2 linked regions of the Homo sapiens genome follow. The gene in region 1 interacts genetically with each later gene. Each region holds a gene or a part of one and is shown on either strand. Other genes may lie near its edges.

Region 1 (3,906 bases):
GTTCTAGGCAGGCAGAGAATGAAAGCAGCATTTCTCAGAAAGCCCTGTGCATCCTGTTACCAATGCAAAGGAATGGCACTTCAGCACCCCAGAAAAGGTGGGGAAACCTCCTGCATCTGCTGTGGGTCCTAGGGGATGGGGGGCAGGTGGGAACAGTAGAATCCTGGCCTGTGGCCTGATTTCTGACCCTGTTCCCTCAACTATCATACCCTTTTCACTTGGGTAGGCTGCTGCAGCTGCTCTCCTCTCTATACTTGCATTTGACAAAGGGTACCACCACAGCAGGCCCTTTCCACCAGGCTGCACGCGGTCACACTTGATACAGATGGGCTTTGGGAGATAAGGCTGTACCAGATTGGTGATCACACACTTGACTGTACATCGTGGCCTCTGGTGGCAATCACTAATGTAAGCTCACATTCCTGAGGCACTCACCAAGTTCCTAGCACTGTACTGAGAGCTCTATGTGGACTTGCATGTACATCTTCTTACCTATAGCATGGAGGTGCTGCTATTGGGCAGCTGGTGAAACTAAAGCCCACAGAAGTAGTTTCCTAATTAAGTAACTGCTAGTCACAAGGTAGAGCCCTCCTTTAATCCTATGCTTCCAGACTCCAAACCTGTGCACTTAACTGTTACTCCGTAAGAAAAGGTTTGGGTCTGATTCCTCTTCTAGGTTATAAATACTAGGGAGCTTCCTCTTTGAGAAGCCTCCTACCCCATCTCCTTACTGTACCTAGCAAAGTGTCTGTCATACGATTAGCACTCAATAAAAGTTTTAAATGTGAATGAGAATGGTAAAAACAGAATACTTAGTAGGCTAACACTAGGATATTCTTCTGATTGCACTTTTTTGTTAAGTTGGTCACTTAAGACTAAGGTAAAGCTTCTGTGCTTTTTGATATAGATGCTGATGGAGGGACTGGATCTGGTAGATACATAGCAATCTAATCATGGCCCAAAGCCTCCAATATAGTATACACATGCATCCTAACTTACAATGATCAACAATGAAAGAATTAATTACACTGTGCTAGCAGCCATGGATATCACATTGCATAAGAGATAGTTCCCTCCCTTAGAGATAAGAGGCAGACGTTTAAACTGTCAGTTGCGATGGCTTGTGACTCTCATGAGGTCTGCGTAGGGGTCAGCACGGTCACAAAACCTGTGGAGGAGGAGGTGGTTAGGAAGGAAAATCCACCGAGATGAAGCTGTACTGGATACAAAATCACACGTTCCTGGGCTTTGGCAGGGAGCTTGCCCACTGCACTTCCTGCCTCGAGGCTATGGCTGGGGTGGGATTCTGGCCCTTGTAGGCGGCCTGGGTCCAGTCTCCGCCATGCACTCACTAACTCCATTACTGCTAATGGGATGTCATCAGCGAAGCGAGTGGTGGCGGCAGGTGGAGTCCCGCCCCAAGACCCCCGGGCGGCATCCCCATCGCCGCGCTCCAGCACTCTTCGCCACCTCGTAATTTTCTTCTGTTTCTGTATGATCAGGTCTGTCCTTCGCTTTTGCTTTCCATTACTTCGTCCTAGCCCTGGCCTGAATCCCACAACTGGCGCCCCACCTTGTGCACCCGCACCCGCCCTCAATACCGGCGGGCAGCTCCTCCACTGCCGCAGGGTTACCAGCTGCGTGTCCGAGGGGCAGAGAGAGAAACAGAGGGGGACGGGGCAGGCGCGCTGGGCCCGCCCCCCCGTGCCTGGGGCAGCTTCTCATTGGTGAAACCTCCTCCCCGGCCGCCCGCTGCTTGGAAAATCAGCCTCGGATTGGCTGACAGCCCCCCGACGGGCGTGGCTTCCGAGGAGAGGGCAAGAACGGAAGCGAGGGCGCGCTCTCGAGAGGAGGGGTTGCCTAGGCGACGCCGGAGGCGCGCTCGGGGGGTGGGAAAGCGAGCCCGGCAGCTCAATGACAAATCGGTGGAGGACGGCTGGGGTCCGGCCCCGGGAGGGGGCGGGGCGCGTTTAAGAGCTGCGGGCCGGGTGCGGACGGCGGAGGCGGCGGGACTGGTCCCTGGTAAGGGCGCGGCGCCCGCGGGCCCCGGGCGGGGTGGGGCGCGGGCTGGGGAGTGGGGTACGCCGCACGCCCGCAGCCTCTTGCTCCCTCCGTGCCGGGCTGTGGCCGGGCGGCGGCAGGACATGTCGCGCCCCGAGGCCGGCGGAGGGCGACGCCCCGGCAGCGGCCCCGCTCCGCTCCGGGAGGACTCCCTGGGGGAGTCTCGGCTTCCTGGGCTGCCTGGGGCTGAGGAAGTGGGGGCGGCCTCCGCCTCTCCCTTGTAGCCGCGGTTCCTTCCCTATCCCGCAGATGGCTCTGCTTCCACTTCCTGCCGCGGGCCTCCCGCTCGGGACCGTCCACTTCCTCAGTCCTCCGGCCGCGGCTTGGGCAGGGTCAGGGCTGGGAAGTGTTGCAAAAACTTAACTGCCCTCGGAACTTGCACGCGCCGTGAACTGGGCGGTGTTCCTAAAGGGCTTCGGTTTGCTGGTTTTGTTTTGGTCCTGTCTTGCAAATGAGCATAAAGTTGTTTCTCCCCCAGCCTCCTCCCCTTTCCTTTCTGATAGGGGCCAGCGGCGAAGGGGCTTCTAAGGGGAAGCGCCTGGACTGGGCATCGCCGTCCCGGTTCTTGCCGCCTGTGGGAGTGTGAGGTTAACCGTGCTCGGTGCAGGGTTGCGGGGCGCGGAGCTTGCTGCGTCCACACTGCTTGTGTGAGCAGTGTCCTCTCTGTGCTCATTTCCAACGAGAAACGTTGGAACTTTGGTGTTCTTATCAGGTGAGTCTTCGGGAGAGAAGTGCTTGTGCCTGGCGGACTGAATGAATTGGCCGTGGAAGAGACTTGGCTGATTGCTCATCTGGGTTACCTGTGACTCATCTTCAGCCCTTGTAGAACAGTGCACTTTCTGCTCTGTCCTGGTTTCCTAACCTCATTTCTTCTGAAGTTTTGGGGATGGATGGTGGGCATGGAGTATCAGAGGGGATAGTGAATCTTTTAGAGGTGTCAATGACTGATGTTCCAAGCAGAGCCATAAGATTGTTGGATGTCAAAGCTCAGAACCGGTCAAGGCTCAGAATGCTCCTTAAACCTGGAGCAATAGAAGCACAGTATCGAAGTTCCCAGAAATGGGCCGACCATGAAAGGTAGCACTGCATATTGGGAAAAACAGGAGGGGTGAGTTTGAAGACCTGGGTTTGATGCAGGTTCTGAGAGTTTACCGGTGTTGTGATGTGGAGCACGATCTTTCCCCCTCTGAGCTCCAGAGTCAGCAACTGTAGAAGGGTGATGATAGTTATCCTAATTGTTAGGATTAAACGAAATAGGAGCGGGGGAGAAGAAGGCCAGGGAGACATATCCTTTGTGCGTGGCTTTAGTTGTCAGCCGGTCTGCTTTATTCTGACCACATCTGGGGCTTTCCTTCCTTGCCCATTCACATTGCTTCCCATTGGAAACAGCACTCTTATCGGAGATCTCAGCCAGATTTCCCTCTGCCCGAGGAATAGAACATTTTCCCAGGATTGTGTGTGGAAAATAGTGTAAGTTATTAGATATCTTTTGGGAACTTGGGACCTAGACCATAAGGATAAACAGGATTTAGAGTCTTCCACGGCATATGAAGAGATTTTGGTAGAAGATGAGGGTAGAAAAGTTCTAAATTCTTGCCTTGACTGAAGATGGCTTGAGATTCCATGAAAAATTTTAAGCCTGAGAATTGAGATAATCCTTTTTTTGTTTGTTTTTGGGGGCAGAGTCTTGCGCTATTTCCCAGGCTGGAGTGGAGTGGTGTGATCACCGCTCACTGCAGCCCCCACCTCCCAGGCTCAGGTGAGTCTCCCACCTCAGCCTCCCGAGTAGCTTGGTACAGTCTTGCACCACCATGCCAAGCTAATTTTTGTATTTTTTGTAGAGAT
Region 2 (3,906 bases), on another chromosome or scaffold:
AATCTCAACATTTTGGGAGGCCGACGTGGGAGGGTCACTTGAGGCCAGGAGTTTGAGGCCAGCCTGGCCAACGTGGCGAAACCCCGTGTCTACTAAAAGTATAAAAATCAGCTAGTATGCTGGCGTGCACCTGTAATCCCAGTCACTCGGGAGGCTGAGGCACGAGAATCGCTTGAACCCAGGAGGTGGGGATTGCAGTGAGTCGAGATTGCACCCCTGCACTCCAGCCTGGGTGACAGAGCAACAATCTGTCTCCAAAAGACTGTCAGAGCTCAACTAGACCTTGAAGATGATCTCATCCAAGGAAGGCAAACACAAGACATTACTGTTAGTATCCCCTTCCCTCACTCACTACAGACATCACCAATTGATCACAGCACTTCCTCTCCCAAGCTGTGAACCCCTTTTCAAGCTAGCACTCCCAGCAGCCATTACTAGTCTGTCCAGGTTCACACCTATGAGGAAACTTGTGGGTCACCTTGATCAAGTCCAGTGACCTCCTCCCCAATTCCTACTCTGCTATTGGAAAAACAGGGGAGCAGGGAAGAGAAAGCATTTTCCCCAGAGTCACGCAACTAAAACAGCCAGGGAGATGTGATTGAAAACCAGCCCTTCTGCCCCTCTATCAGGGGTATTCCTGGCTACAAAAGTCCTAGGGGCAGGGAAGTAGTTATGGAAGGAAAGAGACAACAACCAGATTGACCAAATGCTCTCTGAAAGCCAACCCACAGAATTGACAGAAATCTAACTGGGGAGGGGAGAGGACAGGACGGTTCTGTCCTGAAGGCTGGTGCTAGAGACTCCACACAGCCACCCCCTAGCTGAGTGATCTTAAACTAGCACCTTATCCCGTGTTCTGCCGGCTTCATAGATGATCATGGAAATCTCTTACCAGGCTCTAAACCATAGCAGGGGCGGATGGGCAGAGAGCAAGGCCGAGGGGACTCAGAGGGGGCTGCTCCTCGCCCCAGGGAGCAGGGAAGACATCTTCGAAGGCGGCTCAGGAAGTCTGTTGGCTCTTCTTGGGCAGGGCTTCTGGAGAGGAGGACTTCAGAGACTGACCCCACCAGAGATCCCCTGCAAGCAGTCTCTTTCCCCAACTCCCTCCCTCCCCCGCTGAGGACCTCTCTCCAAAACCCCAAAGACAGAGAATAGAGCCAGATATAAAGAGAGGAGACAGACTGAGACCAGGAGCAAGAGTTAGGAGGGAGCCTCAAATGCTGGCCCCTGGGGGAGAAGGGCCACTCCTCTTACCTAGGTGGAGTTGGAACAGGAGACCCGGCAGCCTCACCACGCCTAAGGAAGGCAGCTAGGACCCTCAGCGTGTCTTCCCGGAGCCCCAGCTCTTCAGAGCCTGCCATGGAGGCACCTGTGAGAGAGAGGGTTAGGGACTGGACTCCAAGGGTTTAGCAAGAAGTGGAGGCTTGGGGACCAGGACTTGTGAGTCCCAAGGAAGGTGCTGAGGGCCTGGACTCCTGGGTCCTTTGGAGAGTGTGGGTCTGGGGGCCTAGACTCTTGAGTCCTCAGACGAAAAAGCGATCAGGAAAAAGACTCTTCGATCCAAGGAAAGGTGGTGGGGCTGGGTGCCCAGATTCGTGGGTCTAAAGGAGGAGGGAGCTGGGGTCCTGGACTTCTGAGTCTTAGAGAAAAAGGAACTGGAGCCCCAGACCCTTAGGTCTCCCAGGAAGAAGAGGCTTAGCGCCCCAACTCCTGGATTCTATAAGAGGCATATGCCAAACTCCTGAAACCCTTAAAGCATCGGGAACTACCAATCCCAAGAGGTTTCAGGGCAAATCTTCCCCTAGGTCCGCGCTTCTTCGCCGCGCAGCCTGCTGTGAGGTGTAGTTCCAAATCTCCGACCCCTGCTGGAATCTAGAGGACCCTGGACCCTTGGATATCAGAGAAGCGGGACTGGGGTGCCCACCACTGGATCCCGGCCCCCTCCTCTTCCCTCCTCACCCCACCCCTCGTCAACACCCCGCTGACCTGGTCCGGGGCCCCACCGCCGCCTCCTCCACTCAACTTGCGGTCTCCTCCACTGAACTCGTACAAACTTTATTAGTTCAACTTTCCCGCGCCTGCGCACTGGGCCGGGTCGATAACCGGCCCAGCGTAGAAAGGGCGGAACGCTGGGTGCACGCTCAATTTGCATGTGACGCTCCCAGCATGCCTCTGGCCGGAAACCCAAAAAAGGGCATAGGGGCGGGAACAGCCCAGCGGGCCGTCCCATCGGCTTTTGGGTCTGTTACCCAAAGAATGATAAAGTTGGTTTTATTTCAAGAAGTCGATCAAAAAGAAAGCCCCAGCGCTCTAGAGCTCAGCTGACGGGAAAGGGGGTGCGCAGCCTCGAGTTTGAGAGCTACCCGGAGCTCCAAGACAGGGGTGGGTTCCAGCTGCCCGCACGCCCCGACCTTCCATCGTAGGTAACGCGGAAGAGCCCGGGAGAGCGTTGGTGGCGTCCGAGAGCGAGGAGCGGGAAAGAGGATGGGTCTGCACGGAGAGTGGAAAGGCAGGCTGTGTACTCTGGGGAAAGTGGAGCAAGGAAGGAGCTACAGTGGCCGACGCTGGAGGTCGGCTGCAGAAAAACTAGAAAAAGTAGGGAGGAAAGAGGAAAAGAGGAGGCGTCTACACTGAGGGGGTTCTAGAGAGGGAGGGGTGGACTCCGTAGATGGGGGTAGTTCAGTCTCGAAACCTGGGGCGTGCTCTGTCCTGGAGGAGGGAGGCGGGCAGTCGGAGGGGAATTGAATGGAAGTTCTGTGTTGGAAATGTTTTGGGAGATCTTCTGTAGGGGGACTGTGGAAGGGGGTCTACATTGGGGTAAGTGCAGGAGGTAGAGGCTTACACGTGAATCGATTCTGCACTGAAATAACTAGGGAAAGAGGATGCTACCCTGAAAGTGGGGATACTTACTTTCGATGATGTGGGGGAGGGAGGAGGTCTATACTGGCGGAATTGAGGGAGTGGAGGGTCTGCACTGAAGACGCTGGGGAAGGATGTGCCATGGATATGGGAAGGAACCCTAGCTGATTAGAGAGCCTCTCGGGAGGATGGGAGGATGGGAAGAGGAGGTTTCCTGTTTGTACCCCCGAAAATATGGGTGAAGGACCTGTGCCGTGGCCCGTGAGAAGGAGGTCTGGGTGCGGAAACTCCAGGCCAGGTGGGTCCGGGGGAGGCCGGTCGCGCCCAGGAAATGCCCTATACGCGCAGGCCGGACCATGGGAACCCCAAAGCCACGGATCCTGCCCTGGCTGGTGTCGCAGCTGGACCTGGGGCAACTGGAGGGCGTGGCCTGGGTGAACAAGAGCCGCACGCGCTTCCGCATCCCTTGGAAGCACGGCCTACGGCAGGATGCACAGCAGGAGGATTTCGGAATCTTCCAGGTGCGTGCGACGACCTGGGACGCTGGAAACCCGGAGCTGCGCGCTGGGCGGAAAGGACTCCTAGTGGGCCCGGCTGAGAAGGCGGAGGTGGCGCGCGAGGGGCGGGCTCGTGCCAACGCTGGTGGGTGGGGCTAGAACGGGAGGGGCGGGGCTAGCCGGATCCGCTGACTGATGGTGGGGCGCAAGCAGGGTTGGAGCTGCAGGGTTACGGGAATAAAACCGGGAAAGCCGGTTAGTACGCAAAGGAAATGCATCCTGGGGGTTTGGGGCTTTCTAGAGGCCGGGGCTCTTGGTTGTAGGATAGATACTGGGGGATGGTTCTTGAAACATCAGAGGTGAGGCCTGGAGCCCCAAATCTGAGGTTCCTAACTACCGAATTAGTATATGCCAGAGGTGGTAAACAGTGTGAGGGGCGGGGTTATCACAGAGGGTGTCGCGGGGCAGGTGGTGCACGGGATTAGACACCAAGTTGGACTTGGAAGCCTGGCTTAGAAAGAAAAGGTTTTTGGGCCGGGGGCGGTGGTTC

What was found.
Region 2: changes in RALB (region 1) and IRF3 together harm fitness less than expected from each alone (positive genetic interaction), as found in Homo sapiens cells (one study listed by BioGRID).

Annotation. Positions count from the first base shown.
Region 1 is NC_000002.12:120,250,959-120,254,864, forward strand, and holds the start of RALB (ras-related protein Ral-B), read left to right. Parts: upstream 1-1,893; 5' UTR 1,894-2,022; intron 2,023-2,099; exon of another isoform or gene 2,100-2,773; intron 2,774-3,906. UniProt on the Homo sapiens protein: Multifunctional GTPase involved in a variety of cellular processes including gene expression, cell migration, cell proliferation, oncogenic transformation and membrane trafficking.
Region 2 is NC_000019.10:49,664,148-49,668,053, reverse strand, and holds the start of IRF3 (interferon regulatory factor 3), read left to right. Parts: upstream 1-2,230; 5' UTR 2,231-2,423; exon of another isoform or gene 2,424-2,912; intron 2,913-3,207; 5' UTR 3,208-3,215; coding exon 3,216-3,380; exon of another isoform or gene 3,381-3,551; coding exon of another isoform or gene 3,552-3,611; exon of another isoform or gene 3,612-3,906. Other genes in the region: BCL2L12 (bcl-2-like protein 12), read right to left, coding at 893-1,035, 1,255-1,361.